Linked DNA regions of Homo sapiens. The protein of the gene in region 1 purifies or fractionates together with the protein of each later gene. This does not show direct contact. Each region holds a gene or a part of one and is shown in the gene's direction. Other genes may lie near its edges.

Region 1 (5,419 bases):
TAAATCATCAACTCTATAGCAGGTTTCAGTAAAAAGCCGCAAGATTTTAAATTGCTTTTTAAAAGATGACTTCTCAGCCATCCTCATCCCACATTTCCTGGGAAATAAAAGCAGAAGTCCTAAAAGAGGACAGATAGAAATTCAGTGTCTGCATAGCTTTGAGTCCAGTGTTTGAAGACAATCTCTGATTGTGAAGCCCTCTTTTTCTCTCCTTCTATTTCTCTCTAGAGCACTCAAGACTTTACTGACGAAAACTCAGGAAATCCTCTATCACAAAGAGGTTTGGCAACTAAACTAAGACATTAAAAGGAAAATACCAGATGCCACTCTGCAGGTTGCAATAACTACTACTTACTGGATACATTCAAACCCTCCAGAATCAACAGTTATCAGGTAATGTTATTTCTACAAGTACTTGACAAATATATGTATTTACACTCTGATATGTGTGTACATTTTTTCCAAGTTTCTCTTAAAATTGTAAACCTTAATAACTATCAATGCAAGCATGTATTTGGAATAAAAATTATAATTAAAATAGAAGTCTAATTAGTGATGTCAGAGACAATTGTTAATTAGCCTCTTTATTAAGAAAAATTATACAAAGCATAGAAATAAAATATAAATGGTCTTAGTTACTTTGCCTCAAGTATAAAATGAGATTTAAATACAGATAAAGGGAGCTGAAATTCTCAATGTCAAGAATACTTGTTAAATATCTTACAGACTACACAAAATGTATATTCACTAAGTCGAATTTCCAAAACGGTCAGGGATGAACTAAGACCACACAGCAGTAGCAGGAAAGGTTAAAATCAGTGATCTTGTATTGGAAAACATTAGGTTTTGTTTAGCATTATTTTAAAGCGCTAAATAGGTGAGGAGATGCTGAAAATTGAAGCCATACTGTGACAACATGATTCTTAATCGTTTTCCTTCCATAATTAAGGACAGAAAGGAATTCCATGGACATTTTGGGGAATTTAAGTGCTACATTCATTTATCTAAATATCTTTTACACGAAAGTTATTTTTTAAAATTTGTTATTTGTACTTTCAATATATCTCTGATTATTAAGAATATTTTATATAGAATCAATTTCACTTATCTCTGGTGAAATAAAAAGATTACAAACGTCATTTCAAATTCCCAAGATGTAGATGCCATATAGCATATTCAAGTCACTTGTTAAGTTTTCATTATAGCTGCCTATTGTGGTAATAACCTATATTTTATTTTAGCTACCATTACACACTCCATAAATCTGGAAAGTATGCCCTGTTTTGAGGAATGCCAACTCATGACCATATATACACAGGCCATTTCTGACTCTTATTTTTTTTTTTACTGTTTTAAAATTTATACTGAATGATATTCAAGAAAATGTATGCAGCAACTTCAAAACACTGAGGAAAGTTGGAAATAAGATACACATGGGTTAAAATATTTGAAGCAGAATAATGAATCTCCGTGAGGCCAATCTTTGAATGAGTGAGCAATATAGAGGCAGGAATATCTTCCAAATATAAAGAAAAAAGGTCAGCTTTTTTTTTTTTTACTGATTCAGTATTTTATTTAATAAGTTTCCCAAGAGTAATTTTCCATCAATTTCTTCCCCCTTTTTATTACTTTAGGATTCTAACAGGCAATTATCCATCATTTCTCTCTCAACTGTTTTGACGGTACTACAGTAAAAGAAGCTCAGAAATAAGGACGTTGGGGGGAAAAGTGACTGTGAATAGAAACCAAAAAGCTAAAAGGCATGGAGGGGAAGCTAGAGAAGAGTAAAGCACAGCCCCATTATTTCTCTTCCAGCTTTTGCATATAAATATGAGTGAGCTCTAAGACAAAATGTGCTTTAAGAGGCAAACATTCAACAAATAAAAAAATACTAAGCATCTATAACTTCACATATTGTACTTCAGATCATTTCTCTTCAGCAGAGATGCAATATTTGCTGCAATGAAATATTTTGGGATTCAGTTTTCTGTGTTCATACTAACTACTACAATGAAGATGAGAAACCTCAACTTTTAGAGGAGGCTGTGTCCAAAAAAGTTACACACAGAGATAACAGCAATAATAACTACCTTAGGCTGAAAATAACCATCCTCTCTTTTGTTCTCTAGGTAACCAACAAGAAATGCAAGCCGTCGACAACCTCACCTCTGCGCCTGGTAACACCAGTCTGTGCACCAGAGACTACAAAATCACCCAGGTCCTCTTCCCACTGCTCTACACTGTCCTGTTTTTTGTTGGACTTATCACAAATGGCCTGGCGATGAGGATTTTCTTTCAAATCCGGAGTAAATCAAACTTTATTATTTTTCTTAAGAACACAGTCATTTCTGATCTTCTCATGATTCTGACTTTTCCATTCAAAATTCTTAGTGATGCCAAACTGGGAACAGGACCACTGAGAACTTTTGTGTGTCAAGTTACCTCCGTCATATTTTATTTCACAATGTATATCAGTATTTCATTCCTGGGACTGATAACTATCGATCGCTACCAGAAGACCACCAGGCCATTTAAAACATCCAACCCCAAAAATCTCTTGGGGGCTAAGATTCTCTCTGTTGTCATCTGGGCATTCATGTTCTTACTCTCTTTGCCTAACATGATTCTGACCAACAGGCAGCCGAGAGACAAGAATGTGAAGAAATGCTCTTTCCTTAAATCAGAGTTCGGTCTAGTCTGGCATGAAATAGTAAATTACATCTGTCAAGTCATTTTCTGGATTAATTTCTTAATTGTTATTGTATGTTATACACTCATTACAAAAGAACTGTACCGGTCATACGTAAGAACGAGGGGTGTAGGTAAAGTCCCCAGGAAAAAGGTGAACGTCAAAGTTTTCATTATCATTGCTGTATTCTTTATTTGTTTTGTTCCTTTCCATTTTGCCCGAATTCCTTACACCCTGAGCCAAACCCGGGATGTCTTTGACTGCACTGCTGAAAATACTCTGTTCTATGTGAAAGAGAGCACTCTGTGGTTAACTTCCTTAAATGCATGCCTGGATCCGTTCATCTATTTTTTCCTTTGCAAGTCCTTCAGAAATTCCTTGATAAGTATGCTGAAGTGCCCCAATTCTGCAACATCTCTGTCCCAGGACAATAGGAAAAAAGAACAGGATGGTGGTGACCCAAATGAAGAGACTCCAATGTAAACAAATTAACTAAGGAAATATTTCAATCTCTTTGTGTTCAGAACTCGTTAAAGCAAAGCGCTAAGTAAAAATATTAACTGACGAAGAAGCAACTAAGTTAATAATAATGACTCTAAAGAAACAGAAGATTACAAAAGCAATTTTCATTTACCTTTCCAGTATGAAAAGCTATCTTAAAATATAGAAAACTAATCTAAACTGTAGCTGTATTAGCAGCAAAACAAACGACATCCAATTGTCATGCTGCATGCAAAACTACACAGAATTCATGTTTTGCAGAGTTTTGCCAAAATGAGTAATCATATAATATTTACTGTAATTTTTAAAATACATTATCGTTCACAATTTTATTTTTTCATAATCAACTAAGGAAGAACGATCAATTGGATATAATCTTCTTACCAAAAATGATAGTTAAAATGTATATATATCCTAGTCCCCTAACCAAATCCTGACCTATTGGGATACTTATAAAAATTTAAGTAAGTGGGATACACAAAGAATAATAACTATTAACTTTTCATTATTAGCAAAAACCTAAGGGATTTAAACTAATTGAAACTGTATTTGATTGGACTTAATTTTTTATGTTTATTTAGAAGATAAAGATTTAAAGAAGACCTTTACAATAAAGAGAAGAAATATCGAAGTCATTAAAATAAGGAGACTTACTTTTATGACATTCTAATACTAAAAAATATAGAAATATTTCCTTAATTCTAGAGAAACTAGTTTTACTAATTTTTTACAACTTCAATAATACCATCATTGACACTTACCTTTATTAATTAGCTTCTAGAAAATAGCTGCTAATTAGGTTAATGAACATTTTACCTTAGTGAAAAAAATTAATTAAATATGATTACAAAGTTGCACAGCATAACTACTGAGAGGAAAGTGATTGATCTGTTTGTAATTACTTGTTTGTATTGGTGTGTATAAAATACAAAATTTACATTAAACTCTAAATCATTCTTTGTTGTAAATTCTTTGTTCAAAGATATTAGATACCATGACTCACCATACCATATACAACTACATCAAATCCATTTAAGAATTAATGCCAACACCTTTATTACATGTTATTGTGCAAAGTCTCTTCTGAAGATGACTTCTCATTTCAATAAGTTCAAATGTAAATGATAAAACAGGTCAGACTTATAACATGCAGTCTAATTCTACACAAGGCATATTCGCTATTTTAACATAAACAAAACATATAACACATGTGGAAGTTTACATCACTTATCTCAATTTTTTATGATCCTCAGAGGTGACTCTCAAACAGAAGGAGGAACAGACATCAATACCTAAATATAATGCCAGAAGAAATAAAAGGGTGTATTGTTGTATAAAGTTCACTGAACTTTAATAATAATCACTTTTATTGAAACCCTCTACAACCTCTGCTGAGTTCTATTTCATTACGAAGCTGAACTCATTTAACTACTAAGTGGTATTCATTTCCAACCAGCCACATTTCTTTCTCCGGCACCACTAAAAGTGAGCACTCAGTGTCAGTGGAGATACAGAGACAGTTCATATAGTATATAACCTATACACTGCTGGGATAAACAGCAGTAATAATTTCTGCTATGTAGACTAGTACAGTTCACTCTAAAATCATATGCATAAATTTACATGTTCTATAGGAATACCAGGATATTTGAGGTAGAAGACAATCTAGAGATCAACTAATCTAACCTTCTTCTTTTGCATATAACAAAAATGAAAGGCAGACTCATCCCTCCACCCATTCAAGTTGGGGTAGAGCATGGACTGAAACTGACTACTTCACAGTGTCATGGAGGTCAGATGTTCGGAGACTACAGAGGGGACACAAACTACCCCCAAAATCTTTGTCACTGAGATGACAATTTCCACAAGAGATGAAATAAACAGAAATGCTAATAGTAATATGGTATTTTAGTAAAAGTAACTGAAAGTATTTGAAATTACCTATGTTTTATGAGTATGTATATATGCCATGGAAATTTTACATAAAACTCTAAAATCACACTTTGCTGGGATATCTTTATTCAGAGACCTTAGACATCATATACTACATCAAACTAAACCCATTCAAAACAGTGTGAGAGTTAGTATTTATGGAGGGATCATTATACATAAAACATGCCATTATCTCTAGCTTTTGGCATATTAATATATATTAACCCCACATTTCACAGTGAGTTTTACTTTTTTAAATGAAGCCAAATTCTGTAGACTCAGGTCCAGATGTGAAAA
Region 2 (3,500 bases), on another chromosome or scaffold:
GGGCCCTGGGGTTTGGTCGTCTCCAAGGGGGAAGGAGAACGAGGGGCTACAGACCCTGTTCATGCCCTGTGGCTAGGGATAGGGGTACTGAAACCAGAAACAGAGCCACATCCACTGTCCTGGGGACTGGCCTGCTGACGCCCACTGCCTCACAGTGTGACTGGGTTCCAGCCTCAGTTTTCTCATCTGTGAAATGGGGGTGGTTGTGCCCACCCTGTAGAGGGTGTGAAGACACTGTGTACAGCACCTTATGGTTCTGGGCACAGCCTTGGTGGATGCAGGCTCCTGGTTATCGAGCCCTGTGAAGTGCTGGGGGCGATATCTGCCCTGCCTTATTTAATCCTCATGTCACCCTAGGGACAGGGAGAATTATCTCGATTTCACAGAGGGGGAGGGGGAGACCCTGGGAAGCCCCTGCTGGGTTGCTGGCAGGATCACAGGAGCCAGGGGTGGTGACATGTTCTGTGTCTCCCCCACCATCTCCTCCAGGTACTGGGAACGTCAACATCGAGGAGGCCGAGAAGCTCTTGAAGCCCTACCTGAACCGGTACCCTAAGGTGAGCCCCATGTGCTGCCCGGTACCCCCAGCCCACAAACACCCACAGACCCCACGGACCCACACGGACTTACATGTGTGTCATTGCAGGGTGCCATCTTCCTGTTCTTTGCAGGGAGGATTGAAGTCATTAAAGGCAACATTGATGCAGTGAGTGATGGGGGTCCGGGCCGGGGCTGGGGATCCCTCGGGGTCTCCCAGACCAGCAGGAAGTCAGGCACATGTGACATACTCAGGGACAGGATAGACTGGGGGCGGGGGGGGGGCCAAGAGAGAACCAACCAGAGAGCAGGGGCAGGAGAGGCCCTTCTGGCAGAGCAGCCTGGGAAGACAAGGGAGGAGGAGGCATTTGTGGTGCCTGGGATTTTGACTGGGAGATATAGGACTGCAGCATTGCAGTGGAGGGAGGTGGAGGGAGGTGCTTGAGGGAGGCAGAGGTTAGGAAAGCCCATCTGTTTAGGGCATGACGATTAGGCTGGAGTCTGGTACCTCCCCTCCATTATAGCTCTCTCCTGCTCTTTCATTTTGTTACTAAAAACCAGAGTCCTAGGCGGGGGCTGTATTTGAGCCCAACGTCATGTAAGACTTAGGAGGTAAAACCAGGACTGGAGGCCAGATCTCCTGGCTCCTGGGGCCCCACCTGAGCCTAGCACAGGGCTGGACCACTATGCCCTGGAGGAGTCCCGGTCTGCTGTGGTGTTGGGAGGTTCGGAGGATGCAGAGGGGTTGGGGCTGGGTGGGCACCCGTCAGGCTGACCAGAAGGTGCCTGCAGGCCATCCGGCGTTTCGAGGAGTGCTGTGAGGCCCAGCAGCACTGGAAGCAGTTCCACCACATGTGCTACTGGGAGCTGATGTGGTGCTTCACCTACAAGGGCCAGTGGAAGATGTCCTACTTCTACGCCGACCTGCTCAGCAAGGAGAACTGCTGGTCCAAGGTGGGCTGATGCCACGTGTTAGGGGCATTGGGTGACCAGGGCTGACTGTGTGCCTCCAGACCACGGGCCAAATCCCTAACTGAACACAGATGTCTCAGCTGGAATCTAAACATAACCTTAAATTCTAATAGGACTCAGGCTTGGAAGGAACTAAAGACCACAAGAGAAACTTCTGAACCACAATGTGTCACAAAGAGATTTCTAGTCACAAAGGACAGAAACATGGCTCCCTCTGTCCAGTAGAACTGTTTCTGTGGTAGAAATGTTCTACTTATGCACTGCCCAAATATGGTAGTCACCAGCCACATGTGCACAATGAGCACATGAAATGTGCCTAGTGCAACTGGGAAACTGATTGTTTTCAGTTTTATTTAATTTTAATTAACTAAATGTTAAATTTAAATAGCCATGTAGGGCTTGTGGCCACTATATTGGACTATGCAGGTCCAAAACACAAAAGGCTCATATAACTGAACATTCTTGGCACATCCGACTTCAGGTAGGGCTGGATCCAGGAATTCAAATGATGTCGTCTGGCTTGGTCTTTCCATTTGTGGCTGTGCTCTCTCCTATGACATCTTTGTTTCTGCTGCATCTTTGCAGGAAGGTTCTCTCCATGTGACAGGCAAGGTGGCCACGGGCTGCTTCTACTCATATCCTCCCCTTGGTTTCAACCAGAGTCCCACAGTTTGAGCCTCACTGGTCTGACTTGTCACCTGCCAATGCCTGGAACAGAGGGGTGGGAAGATTCCTCATGGGCTGAGAGTAGGAGAGGGGTGGTTCCACAGAAGAAAATGATGCACCCAGAAATAGTGGAGGGATTAACAAGATGCCATACAGGCAAAACAAAGCCAAACAGATGCCCGCCTACCAAAGATGAAATTTATCATGGTAAGTATTGAAATAAGTGTTAGCTTGTACCATCATAGTAATGATAGTGCAGAAATTGGAACCAAGAGTCTTACAACCACCTAGCTCAGCAAACGTCTAATCTGTTATTTGTAAATACACAGGACATGTGTCTTCATGGCTTCATCCCCTGCCCATAGCAGACATTGCTAATCAATCCTCTGCCATGAGCCTAGCTGTGACCTTAGATACCTTCCCTGCAAAGCTCCAGGCAGCCGTTAGAACTGACCCACATTGGCACCTGTTAGGAGACCTGTCATCTGCATCTGGTCCCTCCCCCTCCTCTGCATGGAGGTCTCTTCCGTAGCCCTGCCTGGGGACCAAGCTGAAGGGGAATTCTCTGGGTCTGGGGCAGGTGGGGCTGGGGAAGGGAGCAGGCTTCTACTGAGCTCTCAACATGTCTGGCACCTGTCATGTCCTCCACACCACACCCAGTGAGGAGAAGTTATTATCTCCATTGGGCACATGAGGGCCACTGATGCTAAGCGAGGACTGTGACTTTCCCACCCACATGGCTGTTGGTGACAGACACCGGATTTGAGGACAGTCCTGTGTGACTCAGAGGCCTCTGCTTCTCTCTTGCTCCTAGAGTCCTCCTGAGGAGTCGGGGCTTGCCCTGAGCCCACCCTGCTGTTGAAGGTGCTTCCTCAGGCCCAGCTCCCATGGCCCCCACACCCCCTCCTCATCACCTCCTACTCCCAAAAAGGACAAAGCCTCAGGGAACCTTTTTTCTTTTTTTAGAGACAGGGTCTTGCTATGTTGGTCAGGCTAGTCTTGAACTCCTGGGCCCAAGCAATCTTCCCACCTCTGCCTCCTAAAGTGCTGGGATTCTGGGCCTTAGGGAACCTTTTTGAACTGAAAGTGACTCTCGAAGCCTTCCTGTAGAGTGAGGTGGGTGGCTGGGGCTAACCATATGGGGAAGGAGAGACCTGGTGGGGGCACACAGCTGCTATATAGAGGAACAGAAGGTGGGCCAGGCCTCCCAGCTGTCAGGAAATCTGGCTCAGTCCCCAGACCGCTGTGTGGCTTTGGGGTGGCCAGTCCCTCTCTCTCTGCAACACTCTCCTCATGAGGACTTCTGTGAAAAATGGGGGTTGTAA
Region 3 (3,500 bases), on another chromosome or scaffold:
CCTCTAGTGCAGCCTTTTAAATTTACCGATAAGAAATCAGAGGCCTGAAGAGAAGTGAGTTGCCTGAAAGCCCACAGCAAGTCAGTGACAGGCCAAGACCAGATCCAGGCTGCCTGACTCCAGTTTCTTCCTCGGGCCCCCATGACCTTTCCAGGCGCCATGTATGTTTCTCCCTGGTCTCAGGGTGAGGGTAGAAGATAACCTTTCTGAAAGAGGCCACGTCCCTGGCCTCCCAGTGAAGCACTAGGTGAAGCCAGGCCAAAAAGAAAGCACTTCTCTGGAGACAGTTTCCAGGAGATTTTTACTTTCGAGAAGAGCTTTATTATTTTTGTGAAAATCATACATGCGCATAGCTTAAAAGATTCAAGCCATTTGGGAAAGTACAACGAAAACAGCAAAAGTCCCCTTTGATTCTACCACTGGGATTCAGCCACTGTTATATGTTGGTAAACATCCATCTGGACATCTTGTACATATATGTAGACATTTTATTTCTTTAATTATCTTTCTTATTGTGTTTGATTTGTCGAGCAAAGTTCATTTTCTGGCTCTAGGTAAGCATTCCAAATAGTGAAACTCAAATAGTGAAGCTGAAAGTGGGGCAGCCTTCATATTGGAGAAGTGGCCAGCCGTGCCTAACGGGCTGTCAGAGATGATCTCATAGCATCAGACTGGGCTCAGGCCTCGGGCACAGAGAGGTCCTCCCCTCCCCCAGTCTGGCCACAGAGCCTTTAAAATCCAGAGAATCAGGGCTGCAGCCCTGCCAGGGGTTTGGAGAACCTTCCAACACCTTCATTTTATAGATGAGCAAACTAAGGCCCTGAGAAGTGTCCTTCGCTCTTAACCTAGACTTTGTACATGGTCTCGTTCCCCGCTTTAATAGAGGAATTGCTTTATGTCGTAGGACTGGACCTTGCTGCCTTTGGGTTGGTTCCTGGAGAAGCAGGAATAACCACCTGCCCTCCTGCCCGGAGGCCTTTCTTCCCAGGTGACTCACAGTGCCACCCTGGGGTGGGGCTCACGGTCAACCTGATAAGGGACTGATAATGAAATTTCTGTACCAACTGGCTCCACACAGGGGAAAGATGTTTTCTGGGTAAGTCTGGTCAGAAGAGGTTGATGGGGGGAAAACAAAACAGACAAAAAAAAAAAAAAAAAAAACAACAACAAAACAACCTTTCCCAGAGAGAACTTTTAGATGTGAATGGGTTTGAATTGACTTCTTGTTGGAAGGCAGGAGCATTCAGTCTTAACCAGCCGTGCTCTCTGGTTGGTTGGTTTGTTCATTAAGTCAACAAATAGTTATTTGATGCCTACTGAATGCCAGGCACTGTGATACCGTGATAGGTGTGGGAAGCAACTATGAACAAGACAGGTTTAGTCCAGGCCTTGGAAGACAGAGCAGTAAATAAATATCACTTGTGATAGGTGCTAAGGAGAAAATTAGGGAGCAAGTGGGGAGGGATGGGCGTTTCCACTTTCGATGATGTGGTCAGGGAAAGCCTTTATGAGGAGCTGACATTTCAGCTGAAGCTCAAATAGAGAAGGAGCCAGCCATAAAGACTTGTCCAGAGCATCCCAGGCAGAGAGAGCCATGAGTTCAAAGTCCCTGAGGCAGGTCGCAAGCATGGCTACAGCAGATGAGGAAGCCCGGGAAGGGCTGCGCTGTGGGTGGAGAGGGTGGCAGGGGCCTGGCTGTGTGAAGAGTTTGGGGTTCGAGTGACTGAGAAGCAGGGTTTCATTGTCAGGCCCTGTGGTCTTGCCATCCAGAGACCTAGATCAGGTGTTGGCTATTCTGTGTGACACTGGGTAAAGGACCAGCTCTCTGAGCCTCCGAGATGCCTCCTCTGTGGGTACCCCAGAGGGCAGTGGGGAGGATCCTGTGAGATGAGAGGTGCCAAAGCACGGGGCCTACTCTAGGGTCCCCCACCCACGGAGGGAGGGAGACTCTAGGCACCCCCCCCCCACGAATGGAGGGAGACTCTAGGGCTCCCTGCCCACGGAGGGAGGGAGAGTCACCTGGGAGCCTTGCATTGCTCAGGGGTAGTTGGGGAGATGAGATGAGATGAGATGAGATGAGATGAGATGAGATGAGATGAGATGAGAACCTCTGGAATCCGTCTTGTCAGAGGAGGCTCCTTTGCCCCTGGGGGTACTCAGCCTGCCTAGAACAGATGGCTATGGAACCAACTCCTCCAGCCAGCTGGTCTGACCCCTAGGGTGTGCATGTGGTCTTTTCCAGAGGCTGGGCCCCTCCCACCCCTTAGTTTCTGGGCTACCATGGCACACTGTCAGAAGCACTAGGCCACAACAGGCACGCGGGGCCAGGCAGGCCGTCTGAGAAGTGTCCTGCTAGGCTCTGAGGGGTCCCAGCCCTCGGTCAGCATGAGTTGTTCAGCTCCAAGCTAGGCCCCTGGGCTGGTGGAGGTGAGGAAGAGACACCGTAGAGACACTGTAGACTTACGATGTCACCTTCCCCAGCTAGAGGGTTGGCCTGTGAAGGAGCTGGCAGCCATCTCTGCCTCTGGCGATGTGCCATGTTAGCCCAGGAACTAAGGGGTGGGAAGGGCCCAGTCCCTGGAAAAGACCACATGCACGCCCAAGGGGTCAGACCAGCTGGCTGGAGGAGCTGGTTCCATCAAGGGCCAGTCTGAGCTAGGCTGCCTGACTGTGGTGGCCTGACCACCACATTTTGCTTCATCTCTTTGGATTCTCAGAGTGACCCTTGAGCTGGGCTGGACAGGGGGTCTTGTCCTGTTTTACAGAGGAGTCTTTGGGAGGACTCTGAGGGCTTCACTGGGCAGGGAGGCCTCGCAGAGAGGAGTGGAGATGAGTCTTAGGAGAGGGAGGGCGGGCTACAGAATGTTTTTTGGGCCTGAGTGTTGAGGTCAGAAATGTCCTCTGGGAAGACCAGGTCTGGAGGCCAAGCAGAGCTGAGGAGGATGAGCACTTCTTGGTTGGCGGGTGAGGAGAAGGTCCATGTGACAAGTCATGGACAACTCTCTGTGCCTTGGTTTTCTTGTCTGCTGGGAGGGGATAACTGTTGTGCTGCCCACAGGGGTGAGGCTTAGATGAGGCAGTGCCCACAGAGCGCTGAGTGGGCATCTGGCTGGGTAACCGTTCATGCAGATGCTGGGAGGAGACGCCGTCTGCCACGTGTCTCACCACAGTTTGCTTCATCTCTTTGCATTCTCAGAATGACCCCATGTGCCTTGTCCCATTTTATAGAGGAGGAGACTAAGGCCCTGAGCGGGGAAGTAACTTGTGTGAGAACCATCATTTGCATGTGTTCCTGGGACAAGAACTGTTTCACTGTGGGAAAGGTTACTGTTGGGTTTTAATTTTTTCCAAAAGGGACTTTCTCGCCAAGACATTTGCATCTGGGCCTGCAGGGAAGCAAGTATTTCACTGGAGGGTGGAAGGAAAACAGCCTTGGCCCAGATGGGCTTGTTTTTCCCTCTTCAGAGCCCTCCCACTTCCTGCCTGGGAGAGCAGGAACC
Region 4 (3,500 bases), on another chromosome or scaffold:
ACTTTTATTTATTTCACAGTTATATTACACTTTCATGAAGTGACTTCTTTCATGATATTTGAAATATCATGTCAGAAATTATGTCAAGAGGTCTGCCAATGCCTACATTTTATTGAAGATGATTAACCCTGACTGTATCTCTTTTTTCTATAATAAATTCTATTTTTAAAAACTTCATTAAATTTTATTGAGAAAGCCTCTACTTCATGTAAAAGTATCCATTTGAATGTTTTATCCCAGAATTTTATCATGCTATTAGAATAAAAGATGCTACTATATATAGCTGAACAGCACTCATTGTATTATATATTTTATATAAATAACAAAATTTATGTTTATGTATATGTAAATTTTTTATATTAGCAGACATCTGCCTTATCAAAAAAATATTTTAATAGTTTACATATAGCATTGATAAGGTTCTTGTCTAAATAACCTACTGTACCCTTTTTCTTTGTAGTGTTTATAATGAAAAGTTTTAATGAATTGTGGCATAATAATCTTTTTGTACCTTTTTGTGTCAGAATTGAGCTATTGTATTAAAAATAAGAATGATATACCAAGATGACTGAAGCCTCAGAACTAGGATGCCATAGCCATTATGTCCAAATTAAGCACATCTAGTTCAACTATTCATTTATTCAACATACGTAGTTGTTAGAGAACCTAAGTGCAAGACATTGTGCTAGTGGCAATGAAAGAAGCAGAAAGGGGTATTGCTTCTGCATGTATCTGTCTTGATAGGGAAAAAAATGTTGCAGAGGCATAATAGATCTGGACATCATATTGCTTCCACACTATTTATTCAAATGCATGAGTTTATAGCTTTGTACCTTTTAGAAGCATGTATCTATACAAAAGCTTCTAGATTAGCTATTTGCAGGTTAATGCCAACCAGACTCTTTTTTTCCCCAGTCACATAGTTGACACCCACCTAATCTTTCGTAACTTCTGTAATTCCACTAAAAAAAGATTTAGGCCGGGCACGGTGGCTCACACCTGTAATCCCAGCACTTTGGGGAGGCTGAGGCAGGCGGATCACCTGAGGTCAGGAGTTTGAAATCAGCCTGGCCAACATGGCGAAACCCCGTCTCTACTAAAAATACAAAAAAATTAGCCAGGCGTGGTGGTAGTGGCGCACCTGTAATCCCAGCTACTCGGGAGGCTGAAGCTGGAGAATTGCTTGAACCCAGGAAGCAGAGGTTGCCGTGGGCAGAGATCGCGCCATTGCACTCCAGCCTGGGCGACAGGAGAGAAACTCCGTCTCAAAAAAAAAAAAAATTAGGGATCAAGTTTGCCTCCTACAGTTGTGGCTGTAGAATTAAGAGAAATACCTGTGCTGAAGTTTAACAGCCAAGCCCCAAATAATGATAAAAGCATTTATTTACCTCTATGACATTTTTATATTATTATTTCAAGTAATCATTTAACAGTCTGCTATAAAAATTGTTCTTCTGTGGTAGCCACATAAATAGTTTAAATGAGTTAAATTTATCAGCATCATTAGATATTACCACAGGAAGATTTGTTTTGACTGTGACTCTTCTCTCTCCTCTCCCCCTCACACCTGTGTCTGCACAGTATTCGCCTGGGAATTTTTCTCCGAAGATACCCCATAGCGCGAGTTTTTGTAATTATATATATGGTAAGTAAATTTATTTGAAAAAACAATGATGCACTTGATTTTTAACTAGTTTTTTTTTTTGTTTGTTTGTTTGTTTTGGCTACAGATCTTATTGATATTTTAGCAATCAATCAATTTTTTTTTGTTTTTTTTGAAACAGGGTCTGGCTCTTTTGCTGAGGCTGGAGTTCAGTGGTGCAGTCTTGGCTCACTGCAGCCTCTACCTCCCAGGCTCAAGCCATCCTCCCACCTTTGCCTCCCAAGTAGCTGGGACTACAGGCGTGCACCACCATGCCCAGCTAATATTTGTATTTTTTGTAGAGACAGGGTTTCACCATGTTGCCCAGGATAGTCTCAAACTTCTGGGCTCGAGTGATCCTCCCACCTTGGCCTCTCAGAGTGCTGGGATTTCAGGAATGCGCCAACGCACCCAGCCAGCAGACAGTTTGGAAAGAGAGAACTCAGTTTTAGTAATTAAGATTTCTTTTGGTAGAGTATAAATTGACAATTCATTATGTCTAGAATATAAATTCCTCAAAGGCTTTTCCTACAAATAAAATTAAACGCAGTCTAATAGTTACCTCCATTTTAAAGCCCTTCTAATGATAAAAACAATTTGAATACAAAACAATTTTTTATCTTGACGTTGTAAAGTTGCTTTAATTGTTTTCATGTGTTTTGCTTTATTTTCTAAAAGAGCCTCAAGATTGATTTACTTTCTCCCAGATTTCTTACCTCTAGTAAAATGGTTACGGTAGTTTGGGATGCCATTTCGCATGTACCGTGTGCCTAAAAAGGCTGCTAACTATTTGGAGTGGGTATGTCTAAAAGTAGTTGGGTTGAATGAAAATGGGCTGTTTTCTTGAAAAGAAATTTCTTTAAAAAGAAATTTCTCTGTGATCCACTAGAGGGAAGAGTTATTCCTTTAAATACAGGTTTTGTGTTGTTTTTTTTTTCTGAGACTGAGTCTCGCTCTGTCACCCAGGCTGGAGTGCAGTGGCATGATCTTGGCTCACTGCATTCTCCACCTCCCAGGTTCAAGCGATTCTCCTGCCTCAGCCTGCCGAGTACCTGGGGCTACAGGCGCACGCCACTGCACCTAGCGAATTTTTCTGTGTTTGGGAGATGGGTTTTCACTATGTTGGCCAAGCTGGTCTCAAACTCCTGACCTTGAGTAATCCGCCCTCTTCGGCCTCCCAAAGTGCTGGGATTACAGGTGTGAGCCACTGCACCTGGCATAATAACAAGTTTTTAAGAAGGAAAGCGTGGGGAGTACAAAAAAAAATTGAATGGCATCAGAAAGCATTCAGAATATGCCCCAGAGGGGTTGATTTCCCAGGTGTTAGTGATGATGAGTAACACGGGCACTGTCATGAGATGGTGCCCATGAGATGTGATTTCTGGCACACGACAAAGTGGTGAGGCACTTAGTGATGGAATCTCGTATCATTTCGGTACTACCATGAGGGAATTAAATTTGTCACTATGAATCGTGTTCTGGGCCCTACATCAGCCTCTGAAACGACACATTATTTCTGTCTAGAATATTTTCCCATCTCTTCTTCACCGAACATTGGTTAAACTCTCTTTCAGAATACCAACTATAACTGTTCTAAAAGTGTTTTCTAACCAACTTCATGTGTATCTAGCAGTTTTAATCACTCTGCATTATAATCAACTGATTATTTTGCATACACGTGCATATTGTGAATGTGTTGAAGTTCAGAGCTGACTCCTCTCAACTGAATTCTGTAGGAGTAGCAAGTCTTTATTACCTTCCATTGCACTGAGCTCATTTAGTTGTTTCATTCATTCCTTCATGTGTCCCATAGGGGATACAGAGGCAGGTAAGACACAGTGCCTGCCCTCAGTGTACA

What was found. Proteins that work in one complex are often made in the same cells at the same time.
Region 2: the proteins of P2RY12 (region 1) and TTC39A purify together in Homo sapiens (affinity purification with mass spectrometry; 3 studies listed by BioGRID and IntAct, with this or other methods). This does not show direct contact.
Region 3: the proteins of P2RY12 (region 1) and TSPAN15 purify together in Homo sapiens (affinity purification with mass spectrometry; 3 studies listed by BioGRID and IntAct, with this or other methods). This does not show direct contact.
Region 4: the proteins of P2RY12 (region 1) and GOLGA5 purify together in Homo sapiens (affinity purification with mass spectrometry; 3 studies listed by BioGRID and IntAct, with this or other methods). This does not show direct contact.

Annotation. Positions count from the first base shown.
Region 1 is NC_000003.12:151,335,570-151,340,988, reverse strand, and holds the end of P2RY12 (P2Y purinoceptor 12), read left to right. Parts: intron 1-166; exon of another isoform or gene 167-228; 5' UTR 229-393; intron 394-2,129; 5' UTR 2,130-2,143; coding exon 2,144-3,172; 3' UTR 3,173-4,146; downstream 4,147-5,419. UniProt on the Homo sapiens protein: Receptor for ADP and ATP coupled to G-proteins that inhibit the adenylyl cyclase second messenger system. Not activated by UDP and UTP. Required for normal platelet aggregation and blood coagulation.
Region 2 is NC_000001.11:51,299,563-51,303,062, reverse strand, and holds part of TTC39A (tetratricopeptide repeat protein 39A), read left to right. Parts: intron 1-489; coding exon 490-557; intron 558-646; coding exon 647-706; intron 707-1,329; coding exon 1,330-1,491; intron 1,492-1,846; exon of another isoform or gene 1,847-2,217; intron 2,218-3,500.
Region 3 is NC_000010.11:69,457,965-69,461,464, forward strand, and holds part of TSPAN15 (tetraspanin-15), read left to right. Parts: intron 1-3,500. UniProt on the Homo sapiens protein: Part of TspanC8 subgroup, composed of 6 members that interact with the transmembrane metalloprotease ADAM10.
Region 4 is NC_000014.9:92,835,805-92,839,304, forward strand, and holds part of GOLGA5 (golgin subfamily A member 5), read left to right. Parts: intron 1-1,581; coding exon 1,582-1,645; intron 1,646-3,500. UniProt on the Homo sapiens protein: Involved in maintaining Golgi structure. Stimulates the formation of Golgi stacks and ribbons. Involved in intra-Golgi retrograde transport.